7 linked regions of the Homo sapiens genome follow. The protein of the gene in region 1 purifies or fractionates together with the protein of each later gene. This does not show direct contact. Each region holds a gene or a part of one and is shown on either strand. Other genes may lie near its edges.

Region 1 (4,092 bases):
GCTCTTCTCGAACTCCTGACCTCAAGGGATCCACCCACCTCAGCCTCTCAAGGTTCTGGGATTACACGCGTGAGCCACTGCGCCCAGCCCTGGGTTATTAATCACCAGAGAAGCCTGCTCATAAATATGCCCAGTGGGCCGGCCTCCGCCTCCCCTATCATCCTGGTCACCCCATGTAGGACCCTGTGGATTTGGACAGTGTGGGAAGAGCCCACAAAACCTGATTTCCACTAGCCACTGAGGAAGGACGTACAGACCATGACCACACTGACCAACGACCTCGTCGCCACGACAACCCCTTCCTCAAAGCAAGCCCCAGCAGGGCCTAGAAGGGGTGTGGACTGCAGGGTCCCCAGCTGGTGAACTGTGGCCCTCTCAGTCCTAAGTCTGAGACTCTGAGACACAACCCCACAGTGCCTCCTGGGGATGAGACCCGCTCCCTAGCCTCCCAAAGCCACTGCCTGGTGGCACAGCCCTGCACGGCCCCTCGCACGCACGTGTCTGCACCCCTTCCTCTCCCGCTTCGTTATTTTAGGTCAGCCCCACACCACAGGTCTCGTTTCTTTACCTTTCCTTGCCCACCAACCAGAATGTCCGCCCACAAGGGTTCGGTCTATTGGCGCGTCCCTAACACATAGTAGGTGCTCAATAAATGTTGGGCTGGGCGCAGTGGCTCATGCCTGTAATCCCAGAACTTTGGGAGGCCGAGGCAGGTGGATCACGAGGTCAGAAGATCGTGACCATCCTGGCTAACACGGTGAAACCCCATCTCCACTAAAAAATACAAAAAAAATTAGCCGGGCGTGGTGGCGGGCGCCTGTAGTCCCAGCTACTTATGGGAGGCTGAGGCAGGAGAATGGCGTGAACCCGGGAGGCGGAGCTTGCAGTGAGCCGAGATTGCGCCACTGCACTCCAGCCGGGGCGACAGAGCAAGACTCCGTCTCTAAATAAATAAATGAATAAATAAATAAATAAATGCTTGCTGTTGGATGAAAGCACGGATGACGGGTGGTCCCCGCTGTGACTGAACACAGAAGAAGCAGACCTGCTGCACCCGGGAGGGGCTGCACTGGCTACCATGGGCCACTGGGTTCTCAGCTAGGAGCAGGCTTCCTCATCCCAGGCCTGAGTTACCCACGCTGTAAAACGCCACCGGCACCATCACATTCCACTTGAAGGTCCCAGTCAGCTCCACCGTGCAGACCCTGTCCCCGACCTGTCCCCCAGTCTGGGATAGAGGAAGTATGTTCTGGCTTCCGGAGACACTGCCAATCATAAGCCTTTGCTTTTTTCTTTTTTAGAAACGGAGTTTCGCTCTTGTTGCCCAGGCTGGAATGCAATGGCACAATCTCAGCTCACCACAACCTCCACCTCCCGGGTTTGAGCGATTCTCCTGCCTCAGCCTCCCAAGTAGCTGGGATTACAGGCACGCGCCACCATACTTGGCTAATTTTGTATTTTCAGTAGAGACGGGGTTTCTCCATGTTGGTCAGGTTGGTCTCAAACTCCTGACCTCGGGTGATTCGCCCGCCTTGGCCTCCCAAAGTGTTGGGATTACAGGCGTGAGTCACTGCGCCCAGCAGCTCTAAATTTTTTTGTAGAGATAAGGTCTTGCTGTGTTGCCCAGGCTGGTCTCAAATTCCCAGGCTCAAACGATCCTCCCACCTTAGCCTCCCCAGTAGCTGGGACTACAGACAGGTGCCACCATGCCCTGATAATTTTTTGTTTTGTAGAGATGGGGTTTCATTGTGTTGTCCAGGATGGTCTTGAACTCCCAGGCTCAAGTGATTCTCCTGCCTGGGCCTCCCAAAGCACTGGGATCACAGGCCGGAGCCACTGCACCCGGCTAAGACCTTGCTGCTTTTTTTTTCTTTTCTCTTTTTGGGACACAGTCTCATTCTGTCACCCAGGCTGGAGTGCAATGGCGCAATCTCAGCTCACTGCAACCTCCTCCTCCCGGGTTCAAGCGATTCTCCTTCCTCAGCCTCCCGAGTAGCTGGGATTAGAGGCACCCGCCACCACGCCTGGCTAATTTTTGCATTTTTAGTAGAGACGCGGGTTTCACCACGTTGGCCAGGCTGGTCTCGAACTCCTGACCTCAGGTGATCCACCTGCCTCGGCCTCACAAAGCGCTGGGATCACAGGCGGGAGCCACCGCACCCAGCCAGGCCTTGCTTCTTAGCACCCCACGTGGAAACACCAGACAACCCTACGGAGGCCACCCCCAGCCCGGCTTCTATGGGGGCCACCCCTATGCCGTCCCGCTGCCCACGTGGGCTCAGGCGCAGCTGAAGCTTTCACGCTCCTTGTTAAAAATCATAAAAACCAAAATAGTGGCAAAGGCCGAAGATGCCGCGAGTGCTGGGCTGGGGATCGGGACTCGGCACCTTCTGGGCGCTTCCGTCCAGGGGGTCACCATTCGGATCCCCCGGTAGAGATGGGGAAACTGAGGCTTGGAGCGGCCTAGCCGCGGAGCCGGGCATGCTGGGGTTTGGCCTTGGGTCCGTCACGTCCCGTTCACGCCGGGACGCGCCGCTCCGCCTCTCGGCCTCAGTTTCCCCCTCTGTCACCGGGAACAACAAGGGACCTGGGCCCGGCCCGGCCCGGCCCCCGGAAACGCGCACAAATACGGAACGCAGCGGCGCGGGGCTGGGCCGAGGCGGGAGCGCGGATGGGGCCGCGGGTCGGCGTCCTCACCAGTTCTTGACCAGCTCCCGGTAGCGTGGGCCCAGGAACCGGGTCACCATCGCGGCGGAGTCGCACCCTCAGGATGACCCTGTCCAGCTGACCCGGCTACACTGCGCAGGCGCGGCCGCGGCGCGCACGCGCGCGGGGAGGGCGGGGGGGGGGGGAGGAAAAAAAAACATCATCCGCCACTGTGCGCGCAGACCCGGAAGCCACTTACAGTAACTTCCGGCGAGGGTTGGACGACCGCGGAGAAGTGGTCCGGAGTGGGCGGCGTTAGGGCGGTGCTTTCTGGCCACGTGGTCTGGCGGCCGATTGTGCTTCTGGGCTCCGCGGGGCTACCTGCCAGTGATTTTGTGCGCCTAGTATGTGCCAGAACGTTATTTACAATGAAGGAAACTGAGGTCCAGCGGGGAAGGGTCTTGCTCAGAGTCACACAGAGGGGAAGAGCTGGGATTGGAGCCCACTTTTGGAGGCGTCAGGCGTTGTTCCTGATTCGCTGTAGGACTTTGGTCGAGCGGCAGTGCTTCCCTGAGCCTCAGCGTTGCCCGTTGCTTGGAGGCCCTGTCGGAAATCTCTTTGCAGGATTCCGTTTGCGAGCCTGGGTTATTCCTCATTCCGGCAGCAGAGGGTGGCCTGGCTCCTTGCTCGGTGAACGTCTCTGGATGCTCTTAGCTGATGACAGGCAGGTCTTTCTGCCTCCTGCTTTCCACCGCACCAGGCTCGCTTGGGCTCGCCTTTCTCCAGTCCCTGCTTCCTCTGCTCTCCCACAACCCGGCGCAGCACCGTACATGCTCACTCAGCTCCCAGCTTCCAGCCTCCCCCCTGCACACCGGGCCGGTGTGGGCAGAAGGAAGAGGGGCATATTCCCAGACACCGCCATTGCACTTTTGTGCCTTTTCCCCCATATTCAAGAGTTGCCTCCCTCAGGAAGCCCTCCTGGACTGCCTGACCCACAGGCACCTTTACAGCATGAACGGAAAGGCCATAGCCTAGACGGGGCACTGGGCGTGATTTGTCTCTCGGGCGCCAGCGTCACTTGCAGGCCTCGTGATAAGGAATGGACACCGTGGGTTCTTCTGCCCAGCCTGGCCTGTCCTCCTGGGGTCAGCCCCTCAGTACACCCCAAGCCTGCAGCTCTCTGGGGACTGCGGGTGCTAACCCATCCCTATCCCTGGTTAAGGACTCAGGGTGGGAGCCGGAAATAGGTTTTGGACACCACAGTCTGGGCACTGTTTTTCTTTCTTTTTTTTTTTGAGACGGAGTCTCGCTCTGTGGCCCAGGCTGGAGTGCAATGACACGATCTCGGCTCACTGCAACCTCCGCTTCCCGGGTTCAAGCTTCTCCTGCCTCAGCCTCCCAAGTAGCTGGGACTACAGGCGTGAGCCACCACACCTGGCTAGTTTT
Region 2 (3,500 bases), on another chromosome or scaffold:
CTCATGCCTGTAATCCCAGCACTTTGGGAGGCCAAGGTGGGTGAATCACGAGGTCAGGAGTTTGAGACCAGCCTGGCCAACATGGTGAAACCCCGTCTCTACTAAAAAAAAAAAAAAAAAAAAAATTAGCCAGGTGTGGTGGTGCATGCCTGTAAACCCAGCTGCTCGGGAAGCTGAGGCAGGAGACTTGCTTGAACCTGGGAGGTGGAGGTTGTAGTGAGCCGACATGGTGCCACTGTACTCCAGCCTGGGCGACAGATCAGGACTCCATCTCAAAACAGAAAAAAAGAAAATAATCTTCTGTGCACACCACACCCAGCCAATTAAAAAAAGCTTTTCATAGAGATGGGGGTCTTAACTGTGTTGCTAGTGGCCTCCCAAAGGGTTGGGACTACAGGTATGAGATACCATACCTTGCCCAGTTTCTCATTAAAATAGGAAAGGAAGACAAGATTGTGTTGTGAGTGGATCATAGAAAGAATTTAACTTTATCCTTTTCAGACATTGGAGTACATTGTTGTTACGTAGGATTCAGGGAAAATATTCACCCGTGACAATGTGGATAGCATTTTCACATTTTGTGGTCCTAGGAACAATTTCACACAATTAATTCAAGTACTTAAGTGAAAATGGTTATTTAACATTTGGTCTTTGACTTTTGGGTGTGAAAGTAGAATCACAAGATTTTAGAGCAAGAGGGATTTTAAAGATGTCTAGTGAAGTCTCCATATTTTATAGATGATGAAACTGAGACCCAGAAAGTTGGAGATCTGACCTTCATCATGTCATTAGTTACCAGGAGTAGCAGGATAGAAATTCTTGCCTCTTCATCTTCAGATTAGTGATCTTTTAGTAGACCCATTATGCCCATCCTTATACTTAGGTTTAGGCTATCTGAAACTAGATATTCTATCTTAGACCATCGATTTTCAATCGATGTTAATTACAGACTTATTATGGTTTTTTCACAAACATCTTTATGAAATTAGTATTCTCTGGCCTGGCATGGTGGCTCACGCCTGTAATCCCAGCACTTTGGGAGGCTGAGGCAGGCAGATCACCTGCGGTTGGGAGTTCGAGACCAGCCTGACCAACATGGAGAAACCCCATCTGTAAAAATACAAAATTGGCTGGGCATGGTGGTGCATGCCTGTAATCCCAGCTACTCAGGAGGCTGAGGCAAGAGAATCGCTTTAACCCAGGAGATGGAGGTTGTGGTGAGCTGAGATTGCGCCATTGCACTCCAGCCTGGGCAACAAGAGCAAAACTCTGTCTCCAAAAAAAAAAAAAAAATTAGCCGGGCATGGTGATGCACATCTGTAATCCCAGCTGCTGGGGAGGCTGAGGCAGGAGAATCACTTGAACCCAGAAGGCAGAGGTTGCAGTGAGCTGCAATTGTGCCACTGCACTCCAGCCTGGGTGACAGGTGTGAGACTTTGTCTTTAAAAAAATGAAAGAAATAAATTAGTATTCTCATTTTTTTCGTTGAGCACTTATAAGACTTGGCTTTACTTCATTGAGACCTCCACCTTTAATAATGGTAGTGATTAAGATTCTTTCAATGTGGGACAGAATCCCCTGATCTGAAATAGTAGCTCCATTTGGTCATAGAATAAATGAAAAGTGTCCCCCTTTCAGACGTTCCAGAAGTAGAGAGAGAGACAGAAGCCGAGAGCGAAGAAGATCTCGAAGTAGAGACAGGAGACGCTCAAGGAGTAGAAGCCGGGGCCGGCGATCCCGATCCTCCAGTCCTGGAAATAAAAGCAAGAAAACTGAGAATAGGTAATGTTATCATTGGGCTGCATCTATAGTGCAGACTGGGGACTGCTTCCCTTCTCTGCGCCTTTTTTTTTTTTCCCTGTAAGTTTGTATTTATAGAGAATTAACTGCATTTGGCTCCTACCATGAACTGTTGGCAGTGTTTTATTTTAATTGGCTATAATGTTTATAATTCAACTGGAAAATAATAGATTCTGTCAGTTTTAACATTCAATACATTGTATTCTTACTTAATACATAACTGTCAATCAGAAATGTATTTTATAGACATCTTTGTAGAAACTCTGTCATTTTCTTTTCAGGCAGGGTCTCACTCTGTTGCCCAGGCTGGAGTGAAGTGGCAAGAACATAGCTCACTAACCTTAAACTTGTAGACTCAAGCAATCCTCTCACCTAGGCCTCCAAAAGTCCTGGGATTATATGAAGAGGCAGACATAATATCCCAGCTAATTTTTATGTTTTTAGTGGAGATGGGGTTTTGGCATGTTTGCCAGGCTGGTCTCGAACTCCTGACCTCAAGTGATCTGCCCACCTCGGCTTCCCAAAGTGCTGGGATTACAGGCCTGAGCCACCGCGCCCAGCCAAGACTTGTCTTAAAAGTTAAGAAATTAGGCCAGGCGCGGTGGCTGACGCCTGTAATCCTTGCACTTTGGGAGGCCAAGGTGGGCGGATCACCTGAGGTTGGGAGTTGGCGACCAGCCTGACCATTGTGGATAAACCCCGTCTCTACTAAAAATACAAAATTAGCTGGGCGTGGTGGCGTATGCCTGTAATCCCAGCTACTCTGGAGGCTGAGGCCGGAGAATCGCTTGAACCCAGGAGGCAGAGGTTGCGGTGAGGTGAGATCATGCCGTTGCACTCCAGCCTGGGCAACAAGAGTGAAACTCCTTCTCAAAAAAAAAAAACAAAAAAAAGTTAACAGAAATTAAGACAATGTGCAATTTGTTTAGCAGTGGACAGACAGATTAGTGAACCATGTAAAGAGCCCAGAAAGGCATCCATACACATGGTAATTTGATAGATGACAGAGGTGATGATGTAATAAGTGAAGATTTTTTTTTTTTTTTTAACAGCCAAAGTCTCGTTCTGTTGCCCTGGCTGGAATGCAGTGGTGCAATCTCGGCTCACTGCAACCTTCGCCTCCCGGGTTCAAGTAATTCTCTTGCCTCAGCCTCCCGAGTAGCTGGGACTGCAGGTGTGTGCCAACATGCCCAGCTAATTTTTTGTATTTTTTAGTAGAGATGGGGTTTCACCGTGTTAGCCAGAATGGTCTCGATCTCCTGATCTCGTGATCCACCCGCCTCGGCCTCCCAAAGTGCTGGGATTAAAGGCGTGAGCCACCGTGCCTGGCCAGAAAAATTTTTAAATTGCTCTAGGGATATCTAGTATCCTTTTATGAAATAAGACTGCCTACCTTATTCTGTGTACAAAAAGCAATTCCAAGCAAAGACCAAATTAGATGGCAAAATTCTAAACCTTTTAGAAGTTTGTGCCAGAGAGTATCTTCTTCTTCACCTCTAGGTATCTTACATCAAATCTGGAAGGATTTCTAAACTACTTTAAAAAGCACCAATTATAAAGGAGAAAAAAGGTTGACTAATTTGATTACATTAAAATTAAGAAATTTTATTCATTATGAGATGCCGTAAGTTGGGGTGCGTAAACAAGTTGGGTTTATTCCAAGAATGGCAGGTTATTTTAACATTAAAAAATCATTAGAA
Region 3 (3,500 bases), on another chromosome or scaffold:
CCCAGAACTTCTGGCCTCTTGGTTCTTGTCTAATCACATTTTATATCACCCAGTGGTCAGGGAGGTAGGTGGCCTGTCTCTTCCAGTAGACCCCAAGCCGGGGTTGGGCCCTGCAGGCAGGACCTGGAGCTGAGTCATCTCACTGCAAGGGCCTGCACAGTGCCCAGCCCACAGCGGATCCCTAACAGGAGAGGCATGGAAGGGGTTGAGGACTACTAGGGAGCCTCTGTGAGGCACACTCCTGTCTCAATGAGATATGTACCTTCAAGGCGGCCCCCCAGGCTTGTCGGAGGGCAACAGGTGCCAGGGCCCTTGAGGGCATAAGGCAAGACCACATATGGAGGGTAGGATGGAGGAGAAATATCTACTAGGACCCAATTTCGAGCAGTGCTTCTCAACTTTAGGGTGCACTCAAATCCCCTGGGGATCTTAAGATACAGACTCTGATTCACTGGGTTTGGCATGAGACCTGAGATTCTGAATTTCTAGTGAGCTCCCACGTGATGCAGATGCTATGGGTCCTTGGACCACATTTGAGACACAAAGGTTTGGAACACTCTCTTAGGTCAGAATTGACATCCCAAGCACCTGGGCCGTACAGAGGAATTCCTATGATGCTGTGAGCAGGAGCCCCAGTACCTGTTTCTCCTCCAAGTGCTCATGGATGCCTCCCCTACCATCTCATCTCTCACTTTCAAGAGGGAGGAGGCAGAAGAGCTGATGCTCATGAGATTGACCCTGAGGACTGAGGGCCCAGGAGAAGTCCACCCGACCCTAATTTCCCAGTGAAACCTTAGACAAGGGTTGACCTCACAATCCTAAGACCTGTCCTCTGACCCCACAGGTAAGAGGCGCCTCTTGAATATCCCTTAAGATAGAACTGCTCTGTCTGGTTCTTGTGTCCAGCGCATTTAACACAAGGCGCACATGCTGATATTCACCTATGTCAACTGCAAGTGATTTTGAGAGCCTCCTGGATGCCAGGCGTCGGGCAGGACATAATAATGCAGGTGGTATCTCTGGCCTCAAGGAATAACTTCACCAAATAAAACAGTAGGGGATGCATCTTCTGGATGCATTTTCAGGGGCATTTCACAGAGGTGCTGAGAATGCCCTCCTTTAGAGGACAGCACTTGACTCTCATTTGTAGAGAACAGACAGACCCAAGAGCCCTTGGTCAGACAGGGAGATGAAGACCCTGAGAGGATCAGGGACTTTGTCCGAGGTCCCACAGCCACATGGTGATCAGGACCAGATGTGACACCAGGGCCCACTACACAGACTATCTGCTACTTGCACAGGCAAGAGGCCTCTCCCGGGCCCAGCCAACCACCTGGTTCAGAGGGTCCCTCTAGGGTGAAGGACACAGATCCTGACAACACCTGGGGCTTGGCCCCTTCCCATGCCAACAGAGACCCCCAAAGCATTAGGTAGTGGGCATCCCCAAGAAGGAAGAACAGCTGCAGGAAGGCCTGTTCACATGCCAGGACCTCCCTTAAAGAGGAGCAAGAATCAAATATGTTTTGTTCAAACACAAGGCTTATAAAAGATGTGCCTGAGTGAGGAGGCGAGAAGGTGAGACTCGGCTTCTGAATATGCCTTCTGAGAGACAACCAGGGAGTGTCTCGCTGGCCAGCAGCAGTGTAACTAAGCCTGATGAACCGGGTCAGCCGCCCATAGCTCTCACAAGAGGAATCTCAGGACTTACGTGACTTACTCACCAGCTTGGATGGCCAGGAAATTGTAGAGTTCATGCAGCAGCTCCAGCAAGGCTGCCTTCTGCTTGGCCTGACAGAACTGGAAAGGCACGGGACAAGTGGTCAGCAAGGAGGGGTGGGTGGGAGGGGTCCGTCTGTCCATCTTTACTTCTCCAGCCACACTGTCAAATACTAAACAGCAAGGAATATCTCATACTTTTACAAAATAGAAAAAAATTCTGCCAAGTGCTGGGCCTAGGGAGAGAGTTGATAAATATTGGGTTAACTGCCTGAGAAAGACCCTGGAGAAGCAGAGGCAAAGCTGAAAGCAGACACTGTAACCAAGGGGCTGCATCCCAGAGGCTCCTGGCTCCTGCCTTTCCCTTGGAATGACGGCCATTAAGAGGGCTGAGCAGAGGCGACGTGGTCGGGGGATGATGCAGTCGCTCAGCTTCCTCAGAGGAAGAGCAACTGCTGTCGGAGTTTGCAGAGATGGGAGAGCTGGAAGAGCTAGGAGAGCTTGCAGACAGGGCAGAATGTCAGCAGCTGCCATCTCGTCTCCCGTTAGGTGGAATCTCAGAGCCCTCATCTGAGTAAGGATTGTGGTAGGATTCAGTGCGAACTCACACAAACCACTCAGCAGAGGCTGCTACCACCTAAAGGAAACAGGAGGACAGACGGTACCAGACAACGAGACGGCCTGATTAAGACAACACACCCACTCCCAGCCTGTCCCCACGTTTTCAGCAGCACAAAGGCAGAAAGAAAAACACAAAGTGTCACCGTCTTCAACGACCGAAAAGGGAAAGAACATGAATCTGAAATTCAAATGCCCGTCTGTGATCTCGGTAAGCCTGGAGCCATGCAAAGAATAAGACTTTCAGCAAGAGCCTCACCAAAGCCAAGAAACACGTCCCCACCTGCTTGTTCCTGTGTCCACCCTCCAGAAAGGCCAAGGGTGCCCCATGAAATCTTAGCTCCACAAAGCCTGCATTGAGATGGCCCAGCCCCTGCTTTCTGATGCTCTGATGAAGGTCTGAATGGTTACAAATAGGGATATCTGCGTCTGAAGCCCTCGCTGGCAGGTGCTGAATGCCGTCTGCCCACGGAGCGCATCTGTAGCTAGGACCTGGAGGGTACCTGTCTGGGCTCACTCAAGTGGAGCCTGAGTGTGTCCAGATCAGAGAAGGCCAGGGAACAAATGTGCCATTCACTTGTGGGTCTGATTCATTTAGAGATGTGAAGGACCAAGAAATAGAAACCATGGAACTTTTTTCTAATTAAAAGACAAAACTAACAGCACTGAGAAGTCTTACAGAAAGTTATTTTTTCCTGTTTTTGTTTTAAGTCTTCAAATTCCAGTTTCCCCTCTGGCTGCCTGTGTTTCTGGGCCACTTCCTCTCATCATCAACTACAGTTTTTATGATAGAAGGCAGATTAAACTTACTATGAATCTGTTTTTACAAAACAATTGGGAAGCAAAGATATTTGGTGGATGAATCCAATAAATGGATGTAATAAAACACCCCCAACTATGACACACCCGAAGCCAAAGAGAAATAAAAGCCGTTATCTGCACCAGGATGCCCCCTCATTTACATGAGTAAGACAGTCAATGCAGGGCTGGCCAGAGGACCATGCGTCATTTTCTTTCCCAGCCCCTGGGCTACTAGAGATGTTAACTAAGGACTTGGGAGGCCAGGCATTGCACACTTAATTAGACTACTAAGTCATGCCCTCTGGCAGCACAAGACTCCTCCTGGTACAATTTAAGACCTGAAAATTTACTGCCCCATATCTTCT
Region 4 (3,500 bases), on another chromosome or scaffold:
GCCCCCGGCCCCAGCAACACAGGCTGTGCAGGAATTTATTCAGTAAATAAAAGTTCCCAGGGGCACTGAGGCTGTGTCTGGACCTTTCCATCACAGACAGTGATGTATGCCGTCTTGCCACCTATGCTGTGCACACAAGCAGGTATCTGTAGGGTAGAGGCACGCTGTCTTAACAATTAAAAATCCTGTACATTTATCCTTTTTGGGGTTAAATGTTCAGAACCACGAATCACAGAAGATTCAATGATTAATTACGAAATTTAATTTCCAGTCCTGTTGTAGATAAGCAAGTAGTTCTGACTACACAGAGATTTAATTTCCTCTTTATTAGGAGATGGCAAAAATATTTTTCGAATTAAGAACTTTTATCTTCACTTTCAATCAATTCACCTTAAAACAATAACATTGAAAAACAGTAAAAGCTTAACTATGGTTTCCAGTAATGTATGCTATGCAGAGAAAAATTTCAGAAGTACAACTTAGACTATCTTGACCTTTCCATCTTAGATTGGCGAGGCAGCATAATTCCTATGTGCTGTAGGCATATTCCCCAGCTGCTAATGACTTATTTAAATTAATTATACATGATGAACTCCTAAACCGTTGTTCTCTAGCTCCATGTTACACACCAACCACCATGACACAGAAACAGTAATACTCCAAATTTTCAAAATAAGATAAGTGGGTTCGATGTGCTCCACATTATCGTCAACACAGATATATCTGAGCAACATTTCTGAGAAAAGGCCGGGAGCAGGGGATGAGACCCTTGGATGTCAATGGGAGGCTGACAGCAGGGCAGGCACCGTCTCTGAGGCTCCTGCAGCGGCAGGTCCTGTCTTCACTGTCTCTGCAGCCTCTGCATTGAGCAGAGTATGTGCTGGACCAACGAACTGACCTGATGGTCCAACATAGGCTTCCTATCAAAATCAGGAATCCGAATATAAGCATGTGCTTCTGTAAGAGACAACGTCATCCCTGGAAGGGGGGAGCTGCTGCTTCCACCCACTCCCTGCTGGAGCCATCAGGCTACTATGTATGGATGCTTCCTCTCAGCCAGGGCGAAGCCAGCACTCCAGGGGAGAGAGTGCAGCCCAGTGTGTGCTTAGCTCTGGGGAGGGCCAGGCGGAACTGACCCCACTACCGACTGGCTACTGTCAGGTCTCCAGCCTCCCACCTCAGCAGGAAGGACGGAAACCCCATGTCCTGCTCTGGACAGTCAGTCTCACCCCTAAAAAGTGTCCAAACATGTTTTAAACTGGGGCCACAAAGGACGGGATCTGAATTCACAAAAACAAACAAAACAAAACGGTTTATAATTATTTCAACTAGTAGTACATATTATGCAGCTCCAACCTGATACCTGCATTCTTTATGTAACTGTGTAAAGTGCAATCACACTGGAACACAACAGAGATGAAGAAACTGTTTTCAAAGCTGAGCGCCATTCCTTTAAAGAACACGCAGACTGTTAGTCTATATGACCTTCCTGAGCCTTCCATCTTGTTAAATAAAAACGAAGTGTTAAAAAAAATAGCAGTGCCGGCAAAATGGCAGACTGCTCAGAGACTCATCCACTACAAATGTCAAAAATGTCAGCTAATTTGAAAAATTTAGGCTGGGTGCCATGGGTCACACCTATAATCCCAGCACTTTGGTAGGCTGAGGTGGGAGGATGCTTCAGGCCTGGGCAATACCATCAGACCCCATCTCCAAAAAATAAAATAAAATAAACTAGCTGGGCATGGTACACATCTACAGTCCCAGCTACTTGGGAGGCTGTGGCAGGAGGATGGCTTGAGCCCAGGAGTTTGGGGCTGCAGTGAGGTGTTGATGGCACCATTGTGCTCCAGCTTGGGTGATGGAGTGAGCCCCTGAGCTGAGCTCACAAAAAGAAAAAAAGGCTGCCTGTAGGTGTAAAAATGAAACAAATGCCCAAATCTGAAAACACTCCAGGGACATCCTAGCCTAGGTCCACAACTTGCTTCAGAGGCTCCACGCTAAAAACCACTCAGGCTGACAATGCTCTGGGCACACCCTTGACCCAGACCCAGGAGATTCTCACAGAGGAGAGCTGTGAAGCCGAGACACGCGCAGCCTCTGTGAGGCGGTCTGCTGCTAGCCACTGCTGCTGTCACCTCTTCCCCACACACACCTGTGATTCTCTCCAAGGTTTTAATCAAATTTGAAAATCATCCTGTCTCTCAAAAGGACTCCAAGAGAAATAAAGTATGTGTTGCTTGATGAGATGAAAACACTTCTCTGTCTGCCGACAGAGAATGTGGGACGTGTCCTATGGCACTGCCATGCTCGGAGGCAGCCCGGGAACCAACACCACAGTGGTTCATGAATTCCGCTACACCGTTCCTGGGTTGCTTCTCCCAGATTCTCACTTCATAGGGTGTCAGGGATGTGAAGATCTAAGGGAGGACGTCAGATCCATCCTTCCCCAGACACTGTGGCCCTGGTGGGAGGCAGGACGGGCACAAGTCATCTGGAGCAGCCCAGGGCCAGCCTCCCGAAGGGCTTCTGCCGCTTGCCCAGCCCACCCCTTGCCCTGGCTTCTGTTCCCCAGGTCTCTGTCCTTTGCACGGCCTCACAGGGTCTCTGCCTGCCATGAGGCCCCTATTCAGCTTATCTCCAGTGCCACCTCTTTCGGGAAGCCTCTGCCTCCTTGGCAGACTCAGGAGGCCTTTGCTCTGGGCTCGCGTGGGGACCCTGTAAACAACGCCCTATGGCAACTCCTGCGCCACTAGGACTGGTGTGCAGCTATGTTCCCAAGGACTCCATATCTCCAAATAGTGACCACAAAACCTTAGCCGCTCACACAGCTCCTGGCATGAGCAGGCCCTCAGTAAGTGTTTAATGAGTGAGTTCATGCCAGCTGGTGGCACGGCCTGGACTGCTTCTAAAATGCCTCAGTGCTAAAATATCCTGCAGTGACCATGAAGCTGCTTGACACGTGCCGCACACAATGGTGGCACCATACAGCTCACAGAACCCTTTAACTGGACTGAAGCCCTTTAAACTGACTACCAACTATAGGACACAGGGATTTTGTATACAGCCCCTTGTATGTTGTACACAGCAATTCTCGTGAACACTAAATTTTAAGAATTTCTGGACTAGTACAGGGTGACAACAGAAATAAAATCTACAAGCTGGGCTGTAGTCTACAAACTGAAGTCTGGGCTGGCAAAAGCCACATCAGCTTTACAATAACTGTGCCATTACTAGTCATGAACGGGGGAGGGCACAGTGTGCCAAGGGGCTCCTGCTGTCCTCAGGCTGCCACGACATGCCGGGATTCTCCTGGGCTTATAGCGAGGCTACTTCCCGACAACCCCACCATACACTGACAACACCGTGAAGTGGAAAATGCACAGAATCCACCTATAACCCACCGAACACCATGGCACAGCCTCACCTGCCTTAAATGTGCTCAGGGCACCTACAGTAGCTGACGGCTGGATGACATCATCTAACACGAAGCCTATTTT
Region 5 (2,739 bases), on another chromosome or scaffold:
ATTGGTTCACCCACTAAATGATCTTGTCATCCTTGAGGGGCCCAGATTTAAGTGGGAGGGGTTTCTGATCTGACTTCCCAGTTGTAGATGCCTTAGGCTTTATTGCCTATCCCAATATGTGGCCCACTAAAAAGTAGTTCTAGGCTACCCACAAATCCCACATAAAAGCAGAGGCCTTAAGGCCGGAACGGTGGCTCAACGCCTGTAATCCCAGCACTTTGGGAGTCTGAGGCAGGCAGATCACTTGAGGCCAAGAGTTTAAGATCAAACTAGCCAACATGGCAAAACTCTATCTCTACTAAAAATACGAAAGAAATTAGCTGGGCTTGGTGGCGGATGTCAGCTACTCGGGAGGCTGAGGCACAAGAATCACTTGAACCTGGGAGGTGGAGGTTGCAGTGAGGCGAGATTGCACCACTGTACTCTAGCCTGGGTGACAGAGCGAGACTCTGTTTCGGGGGGGAAACACAAAAAGAAGGCCACAAAAAACAGAATAAAAAGATGAGTAAAGAGAATGTTTATGAAGTGGCTCCTACATAATGTCCCAGCCCTGGGAGTCACGAACAGACTCCATGGTTTTCATTGGCCCCTCTTCTTCGGTATCAGAATCCCTGGTTTAAGGCAAGGATGAGAGAAGAACACGAGGACGCAATGAACCAGATTCAAGCTGAGGCTGTGTGGCATGGCAGAAGGCTGAACTATTCTTGTGTAGCCCTAGGGATAGTCCAAGAGCCCTCTAGTCTTCTCTGAGGCAATGAGATTCAAGGGCAGCTGTGATCCTTGCCCTTGAACGGAAACCAGCCGTGGCCAAATCTGTCCTCACAGATCCATGTCTCCCTGGGGCAGTGGCAGAGCAGAGGATAGTTCCTTATTACTCTTTGCTCAAAGGGAGATGTCTCCTGTCCTTGCCTGCATTTCGTCGCCTCTTTCGACTCAAGAAGTTCTCCAATTTCTTGCTGCGTTTCAGCTCCTTGAACTTCTCAGCTAGTGCCAACTGGCGCTGCTCAGCTAAATGACAGGGAGAATGAAAGTTGGTGAACAAAGAAGGAAGCCCCTATTCTTTCCCAAACCAGGTCAGTAACTCCAAGCCATTATGCTGGATACATGAGTTCTTTAAAGCTCACTGGTGCCCCTCTATCTTTTTTCTGAGACGGAGTCCTGCTCTGTTACCCAGGCTGGAGTGCAGTGACGCGATCTCGGCTCACTGCAACCTCCGTCTTCTAGATTCAAGTGATTCTCCTGCCTCAGCCTCCGGAGTAGCTGGGATTACAGGCGCGCACCACCACATATGGCTAATTTTTTTGTATTTTTAGTAGAAACAGGGTTACGCCATGTTGGCCAGGCTGGTCTCGAACTCCTGACCTCAGGTGATCCGCTCTCCTCAGCCTCCCAAAGTGCTGGGATTACAGGCGTGAGCCACTGCGCCTGGCCAACGGGTGACTTTTTTTTTTTGAGATGGAGTCTCACTCTGTCACCCAGGCTGAAGTGCTGTGGCACGATTTCAGCTCACTGCAACCTCCGCCTCCCAGATTCAAGCGATTCTCCTGCCTCAGCCTTCTGAGTAGCTGGGATTACAGATGCACAGCACCACACCCAGCTAATTTTTGTATTTTTAGTAGAGACGGGGTTTCACCATGTTTGCCAGGCTGGTCTTGAACTCCTGACCTCGTGATCTGCCCTCCTTGGCCTCCCAAAGTGCTGGGATTACAGGTGTGAGGCACTGCGCCCGGCCCAACTGGTGACTTTTTTTTGTTTGTTTGTTTTTCCTGTGAGATGGAGTCTCACGCTGTTGCCCAGGCTGGAGTACAACAGTGCAATCTAGGCTTTCTGCAACCTCCACCTCCCGGGCTCAAGTGATCCTCCTGCCTCAGCCTCCTGAGTAGCTGGATTACAGGTGCACGCCACCAGGCCCGGCTAATTTTTTTATATCTTTAGTAGAGACAGGGTTTCACCATGTTGGCCCCCAGGCTGGTCTCGAACTCCTGACCTCGTGACCCCCCCACACTGGCCTCCCATAGTGCTGGGATTATAGGCGTGAGCCACCGTGCCCAGCCCAACTGATGACTTTTTATATGATCTCAGTACTACTCAATTCAACCAACTATGAACACCTATGTGCCTGGCCCAGCGTGTGTGCATGTGTGTGTGTGCAGTGTAGACCAAGAAACAAAACTGATTGTGTGTGTGTGTGTGTAGACCAAGAGATAAAACTCTGTGTGTGTGTGTAGTATAGACCAAGAGATAAAACTGATTGTGTGTGTGTGTGTGTGTAGACCAAGAGATAAAACTGACTCTGTGTTTGTGTGTGTGTGTGTGTGTGTGTGTGTGTGTGTGTGTAGTGTAGACCAAGAGATAAAACTCACTGTGTGTGTGTTGGGGGGGGGGGGTTGGGAAGTGGGGAGTGTAGACCAAGAAATAAAGGTGACAATGCCTGCCATGATCTAATTAGGGATACAAGACTGGTTACAAACAACTCCCTACTATTTCTACTTTCCTCCAAGTTACCATGGGATCCAGCCTTCATGCCTTCCTTAAAGGGGATCAGGGACACCCCAACACAAGACTCTACCACCATGGCCCCTGCACCCCTGTCCCTGTTAGCAACAGTTGTGCCCAACTCACATTTTTTCAGGAAGTATGGCCGATGGCCCTGCTGGGCCTGAGCCCGACGTTCTTGCTTCAGGGCCAGGTGCAGCTCCTGCTGTTGCTTTCGTTCCTGCTGTGCCATTTCTTGCTGCT
Region 6 (3,500 bases), about 45 Mb from region 1:
CCACCCCAACCACAGCCCAGCGGGTGATCTCTCCGGTCTCCTGTGCCATGCACATGCAGAGCCTGGCCCTTCTTTGTACACTTATCCCAACCCTAAGTGACCAAACTTGAGGTTCTGTGAGACCAGGCCACCGGGGTTGGCCCGGGTGGCTCCGATGCCCCAGAGGAGAAACTGTAAGGGCAGGGCTCACCTCGGCCGCGGCTGCTGCCCTCCTTGGCACGCCGGTACTGGTTCAGCTCTTTGGTGAAGTCGTCATAGTCCTCCTTGCCCATGTCCTCCTCCTCGTCGCCCTCATATTCCCCATACTGCTCATTCTCGTAGTCCTCGTACATGCCATAACTCTTGCTGTCCATCTTGGAGTATGCCTTCTTGGGCAGGGGCGTGGCATGCGATGGGGGGTACTGCTGGTGGGACTGCGTCCCAGAGATGGGGAAAAGAGGTGAGCCGGATCCCACAGCCGTGGGTGCAGACTACCAAGATACCCAGGGTTCCCTAAACGAACATGTCTGTCTGGGTGTCACTACTGTCCCAGGGTTGCACTGCTGGTCTCCAGCCCCTCTGGGGACTGGTTCTCGTACCAGGGAGTGGGAGTAGCAGCGGGCCCAAGTGTTTCTGTTCTTCATAAAGGGCCAGAACTAGAAAGAAAACAGAACCACAGACCCCCGATCCCTGATGAACAAAGGGGAGAAGAAGGGAGCATTTCCCAAGGATGCAGAGCAAGCGCACGTGGAGGGGCCTGGGAAGCAGGCGGGGGCTGCTTGGTCACAATTTTCCTAGGGCCCTGGAATTCAATAAATGGCCTGCTTGGCAGCCAGGCTGGACAGCCATCTCAAATGATGCTTTCCAAAGTGTGGTAATGCCAAGTGGTACTAGAAGAAGTTAAAGATACTCATAAAAACGGAAGCAACCAAGACATCCTTCAACAGGTAAATGGATAACAAACTGGTATATCCAGACAATGGAGTAACGACGAATATGTAACAATAAAGTGTGTATTGGGCAAAACCCAGAGAACTATACAACCCTAAGTAATAACAATGTATCAATACCGGCTCATCAATTCTAACAAAGTTACCACAACAATGCAAGACATTGGTAATGGGAAACTGGAGGCAGGGAAGGGGGCAGGCAGAGGGGAGAAGGGAACTCTACTACTACCTGCTCAATTTTGAATAAACTTAAAACAGCTCTAAAAAAGAAAGTCAGGGGGCTGGGCGCGGTGGCTCATGCCTGTAATCCCAGCACTTTGGGAGGCCGAGGCGGGCAGATCACAAGGTCAGGAGATGCAGACGCGAAATGCGATCTCTACTAAAAATGCAAAAATGCAACAACAACAACAACAACAAAATAGCCGAGTGTGGGGCAGGCACCTGTAATCCCAGCTACTTGAGAGGCTGAGGCAGGAGAATTGCTTGAACCCGCGAGGCAGAGGTTGTAGTGAGCAGAGACTGCACCACTGCACTCCAACCAGGGTGACACAGCGAAACAACAACTCAAAAAAATTAAAATAAAGTCCGGGCACAGTAGCTCACACCTGTAATCCCAGCACTGTGGGAGGCCCAGGCAGGCAGATCTCTTGAGGTCAGGAGTTCCAGACCAGCCTGGCCAACATGGTGAAACCCAGTCTCTACTAAAAATACAAAATGAATTAGCCGGGCATGGTGATGGGCGCCTCTAATCCCAGCTACTCGGGAGACTGAGGTGTGAGAATCACTTGAACCCGGGAGGCAGAGGATGCGGTGAGGCAAGATTGCGCCACTGCACTCCAGCCTGGGCGACAGAGCGAGACTCTGTCTCAAAAAATAATTAAAATTAAAAAAAAAAAGTTGGGCCAAGCGTGGTAGCTCACGCCTGTAATCCCAGCACTTTCGGAGGCAAAGGCAGGCAGATCACAAAGTCAGGAGTTCGAGACCAGCCTGGCCAACATAGTGAAACCCCGTCTCTACTAAAAATACAAAAAAAAAAAATTTGCCAGGTGTGGTGGTGGGCGCCTGTAATCCCAGCTACTTGAGAGGCTGAGGCAGGAGAATCGCTTGAACCAGGGAGGCGGAGGTTGCAGTGAGCCGAGATTGTGCCACTGCACTCCAGCTTGGGCGACAGAGCGAGACTCCATCTCTAAATAAATGAATGAATGAACGCATAAAAAAGTCGGCTGCGCATGGTGGCTCATGTCTGCAATCCCCGCACTTTGGGAGGCCGAGGTGGGCAGATCATTTGACCCCAGGAATTTGAGACCAGCCTGGGCAACATTTTGAAACCCCATCTCTACCAAAAGTACAAAAATTAGCCTTGGCGTTATGGCCCATGGTTCCAGCTACTTAGGAGGCTGAGGCAGGAAGATCACCTGAGCCCAGGGAGCTCGAGGCTGCAGTGAGGTGAGATCACACCACTGCACTCCAGCCTGGGCAACAGAGTGAGATCCCATCTCAATAAACAAACAAACAAACAATAAAGCCCACTAATTTTAAAAAATCCGAATTATAGAAAAACAGGACAATGCAAAATACAGCTAGACACACAGACACACATACAAGTACTTTAGCAGATCTTTAAAATGCCTCCAGCTCTAGTTCATAAAAAGCACGCAATGTTCCCTCCATTTCCTGCCTCCCTCAGGTTTGAAGGCCAAACCTACACCAGTAGATCAATCTCAACTATGGTATTGGACAATGAATCATTTGTTGTGATGGATGATGCTGGGTCATGGGATACCTGGGACAGCTTTAAAGACCTACTAACTTTAAAACATTTCTCAACCAGCCGGGCACGGTGGCTCTCGCCTGTAACCCTAGCACTGTGGGAGGCCAAGGCGGGCGGGTCACCTGAGGTCAGGAGTTCGAGGCCAGCCTGGCCAACATCGTGAAACCCTGTCTCTACTAAAAATACAAAAATCAGCCGGGCAAGGTGGCACATGCCTGTAATCCCAGCTACTCGGGAGGCTGAGACAGGAGAATCGCTTGAACCAGAGAGGTGGAAGTTGCAGTGAACCGAGATTGCCCCACTGCACTCCAGCCTAGGCGACAGAGCAAGACTCCGTCTCAATAAATAAATAAATAAATAAATAAATAAATAAACAAACAAGACAAAACATTTCTCATCCAAACCCGGACACCCACGTGCCAACGAATACTGGGTAAAGTAATCATAAGATGATTTGCGGCCGGGCGCGGTGGCTCACACCTGTAATCCCAGCACTTTGAGAGGCCGAGGCAGGCGGATCACGAGGTCAGGAGATGGAGACCATCCTGGCTAAGACGGTGAAATCCTGTCTCTACTAAAAACACAAAAACTTGGCCGGGAGTGGTGGCGGGTGCCTGTAGTCCCAGCTACTCAGGATGCTGAAGCAGAAGAATGGTGCGACCCCAGGAGACAGAGCTTGCAGTGAGCTGAGATTGCACCACTGTACTCCAGCCTGGGCGACAGAGTGAGACTCTGCCTCAAAAAAAAAAAAAAAAAAAAAAAAATGATTTGCTTTTCTCTTATGGGATTTTCTGGGGGAA
Region 7 (2,284 bases), on another chromosome or scaffold:
GCCCATAGACTCAACCAACTGTGGCTCAAAAGCATTTGGAAAAAAGAAATTGCATCTGTACTGAACATGTACAGACTCTTTTTTTCTCATCATTATTCCCTAAACAATACAGTATAACAACTATTTATTTAGCATTTACATTGTATTAGGTATTATAAGTAATCTAGAGATGATTTTAAGTATTTGGGAGGATATGCAGAGGTTATATCCATATACTATGCCATTTAATATCAAGGACTTGGGCATCCTTGGATTTTGGCATCAATGGTACATCTTGAAATCAATCTCCCACAGATACAGAGTGATGACTGTATTCTTAACACATTCTTTTCTTTGGATTTTAAAATCTCTTCTTTACTTAACATCTCCTAAAATTTGGATTTATACATATTTATAATAAAGTTTATTAAGTTGATGATTAAAAAAAGAAAAACCTATGTTACACAGAGCTATTTAGGATTTAGTGAGATTGAAAATTATTTACCAAAAATAGGCCAAAGTTTCAATGCTGAAAGGAACTTTTAATATCTTAACTTGACCCAAATTATATTATTATTTATAAAAGTTATATAAATGCAGGCTGATTGTTTTAAAAGAGTCAAAAAGCCAAATATAAGTAAAGCACTAGAAATAAATTCAGTTGTAAAAAATTGACATCATTATTCTAAATGTTATGTGGAATCACAGGAAGAAACATCATTGCAATCATTATTCAAAGTAATATTAAAGATAACATAAGAGATGTTTGGTCTTAAATGTCAATTTGAATGTATAGTGTCTACAATAATAGATCAAAGAGAAAGTAAGTATATCTGTAATAAAAACAAGAAAAAATGAGTTGCAAATACTGTATTCTACAATGAAAGAAGAATGCAGATTAAGGATAAAACAGTCTTACCAACTAGGCCACCTTTAAGGATCATTTTTCAGGGTAGCTAAAAGGAGTAACAATAAAGCTCTACACATATAACTAAAATGTTTGCAATTAATCTAGTCCCAGCACTTTTATTTGTAGAGTTCTCAAATCAAAAGTAACAAATAATTATACATCAGGATTGTTAGGAATACCAATTATTTTACAACTGCCACTACGTGTTTCTTCTTCTCTGACACAAGTGGCACAGATCCAGGCTTGCTGTGTTTAATACGATTCACTTCCCTAGAAATAAAATATACAAAATATAAGCAAGTTATGGGAACTCATCTTAAAGAAAACTTTCTCAGAAAAATCAAAGCATTTTCTTTCACTAGAAAAACACCTATTTAAAAAAATATTTTCACGATGACAATAGGTAAAAGGAAGCTAGTACCAAGAAATCAACTTTACTTATTTAATTGCTTCTTATCATATTTACCTAATAGGGTCCTTTACTAAGTTTAAAAACCTTCCACAGTTAATAAAATTTCTAAAAGTGATTCTACTGCAACATCTACCCAAAGACAGAAAAAAAGAGCCATTTGTATATTCTAATTGAAAAATAAAGAGCTCTTAGAATTTCATGCATGACTTCAAGTATTTCAAAGAGAAGAATATTTCACGGGAAATGGTGGTGGTGGTAGTAGCTCTGCTCTATATCCAAAATGATAGATGTCATGTTATAATAAAGTATATCAGAACACTTTTTACTTAAGAAAAGAGCTCTACTATAGATTAATTCTTTAACTTGGAAAATACACAAAATCTCTTAATTCCAGCTACATCAGAAATTATTTTTTAAAACATTTTTTACAATAATTTTTTAATATGAGCAAGTGTTTTCTTATTTTGGTAACTCATTTTCATCGTTTGTCCTTTAAACATATTCTCAAAAACAGGTAATGGAAGTTCTCCCATTCTCAGATAGTCACTGCTTCCCTTTTTTGGGAAAAAGAAAAAGAAATGGCCTTCTGGGCGGGGCATGGTGGCTCACACCTGTAATCCCAGCACTTTGGGAGGCCGAGGCAGGCGATCACGAGGTCAGGAGATTGAGACCATCTTGGCTAACATGGTGAAACCCTGTCTCTACTAAAAATACAAAAAATTAGCCGCGCATGGTGGCGCGTGCCTGTAGTCCTAGCTACTCAGGAGGCTGAGACAGGAGAATGGCATGAACCCGGGAGGCGGAGCTTGCAGTGAACCAAGATTGTGCCACTGCACTCCAGAGCGAGACTCCGTCTCAAAAAAAAAAAAAAGAAAAAAGAAAAGGCCTTCTGTAGAAGTCTTCAAACACATCACTAACATACTATTAAATAATAGCACATAAACTACTCCCTTGAATGGCAGTTAACTTTGTTTTTGGTGAGA

What was found.
Region 2: the proteins of UQCR11 (region 1) and DDX46 purify together in Homo sapiens (affinity purification with mass spectrometry; one large-scale study listed by BioGRID and IntAct). This does not show direct contact.
Region 3: the proteins of UQCR11 (region 1) and LEMD2 purify together in Homo sapiens (affinity purification with mass spectrometry; one large-scale study listed by BioGRID and IntAct). This does not show direct contact.
Region 4: the proteins of UQCR11 (region 1) and SFSWAP purify together in Homo sapiens (affinity purification with mass spectrometry; one large-scale study listed by BioGRID and IntAct). This does not show direct contact.
Region 5: the proteins of UQCR11 (region 1) and RRP36 purify together in Homo sapiens (affinity purification with mass spectrometry; one large-scale study listed by BioGRID and IntAct). This does not show direct contact.
Region 6: the proteins of UQCR11 (region 1) and ZC3H4 purify together in Homo sapiens (affinity purification with mass spectrometry; one large-scale study listed by BioGRID and IntAct). This does not show direct contact.
Region 7: the proteins of UQCR11 (region 1) and DCAF13 purify together in Homo sapiens (affinity purification with mass spectrometry; one large-scale study listed by BioGRID and IntAct). This does not show direct contact.

The regions. Positions count from the first base shown.
Region 1 is NC_000019.10:1,602,663-1,606,754, forward strand, and holds the start of UQCR11 (cytochrome b-c1 complex subunit 10), read right to left. Parts: upstream 2,801-4,092; 5' UTR 2,748-2,800; coding exon 2,698-2,747; intron 1-2,697. UniProt on the Homo sapiens protein: Component of the ubiquinol-cytochrome c oxidoreductase, a multisubunit transmembrane complex that is part of the mitochondrial electron transport chain which drives oxidative phosphorylation.
Region 2 is NC_000005.10:134,765,279-134,768,778, forward strand, and holds part of DDX46 (probable ATP-dependent RNA helicase DDX46), read left to right. Parts: intron 1-1,638; coding exon 1,639-1,782; intron 1,783-3,500. UniProt on the Homo sapiens protein: Component of the 17S U2 SnRNP complex of the spliceosome, a large ribonucleoprotein complex that removes introns from transcribed pre-mRNAs.
Region 3 is NC_000006.12:33,782,631-33,786,130, forward strand, and holds part of LEMD2 (LEM domain-containing protein 2), read right to left. Parts: intron 1,890-3,500; coding exon of another isoform or gene 1,863-1,889; exon of another isoform or gene 1,831-1,862; intron 1,798-1,830; coding exon 1,722-1,797; intron 1-1,721. UniProt on the Homo sapiens protein: Nuclear lamina-associated inner nuclear membrane protein that is involved in nuclear structure organization, maintenance of nuclear envelope (NE) integrity and NE reformation after mitosis.
Region 4 is NC_000012.12:131,749,090-131,752,589, reverse strand, and holds part of SFSWAP (splicing factor, suppressor of white-apricot homolog), read right to left. Parts: intron 1-3,500.
Region 5 is NC_000006.12:43,027,361-43,030,099, reverse strand, and holds the end of RRP36 (ribosomal RNA processing protein 36 homolog), read right to left. Parts: coding exon 2,623-2,739; intron 1,009-2,622; coding exon 872-1,008; 3' UTR 501-871; downstream 1-500. UniProt on the Homo sapiens protein: Involved in the early processing steps of the pre-rRNA in the maturation pathway leading to the 18S rRNA.
Region 6 is NC_000019.10:47,089,777-47,093,276, forward strand, and holds part of ZC3H4 (zinc finger CCCH domain-containing protein 4), read right to left. Parts: intron 414-3,500; coding exon 191-413; intron 1-190. UniProt on the Homo sapiens protein: RNA-binding protein that suppresses transcription of long non-coding RNAs (lncRNAs). LncRNAs are defined as transcripts more than 200 nucleotides that are not translated into protein.
Region 7 is NC_000008.11:103,441,670-103,443,953, reverse strand, and holds the end of DCAF13 (DDB1- and CUL4-associated factor 13), read right to left. Parts: intron 1,160-2,284; coding exon 1,072-1,159; 3' UTR 501-1,071; downstream 1-500. UniProt on the Homo sapiens protein: Part of the small subunit (SSU) processome, first precursor of the small eukaryotic ribosomal subunit.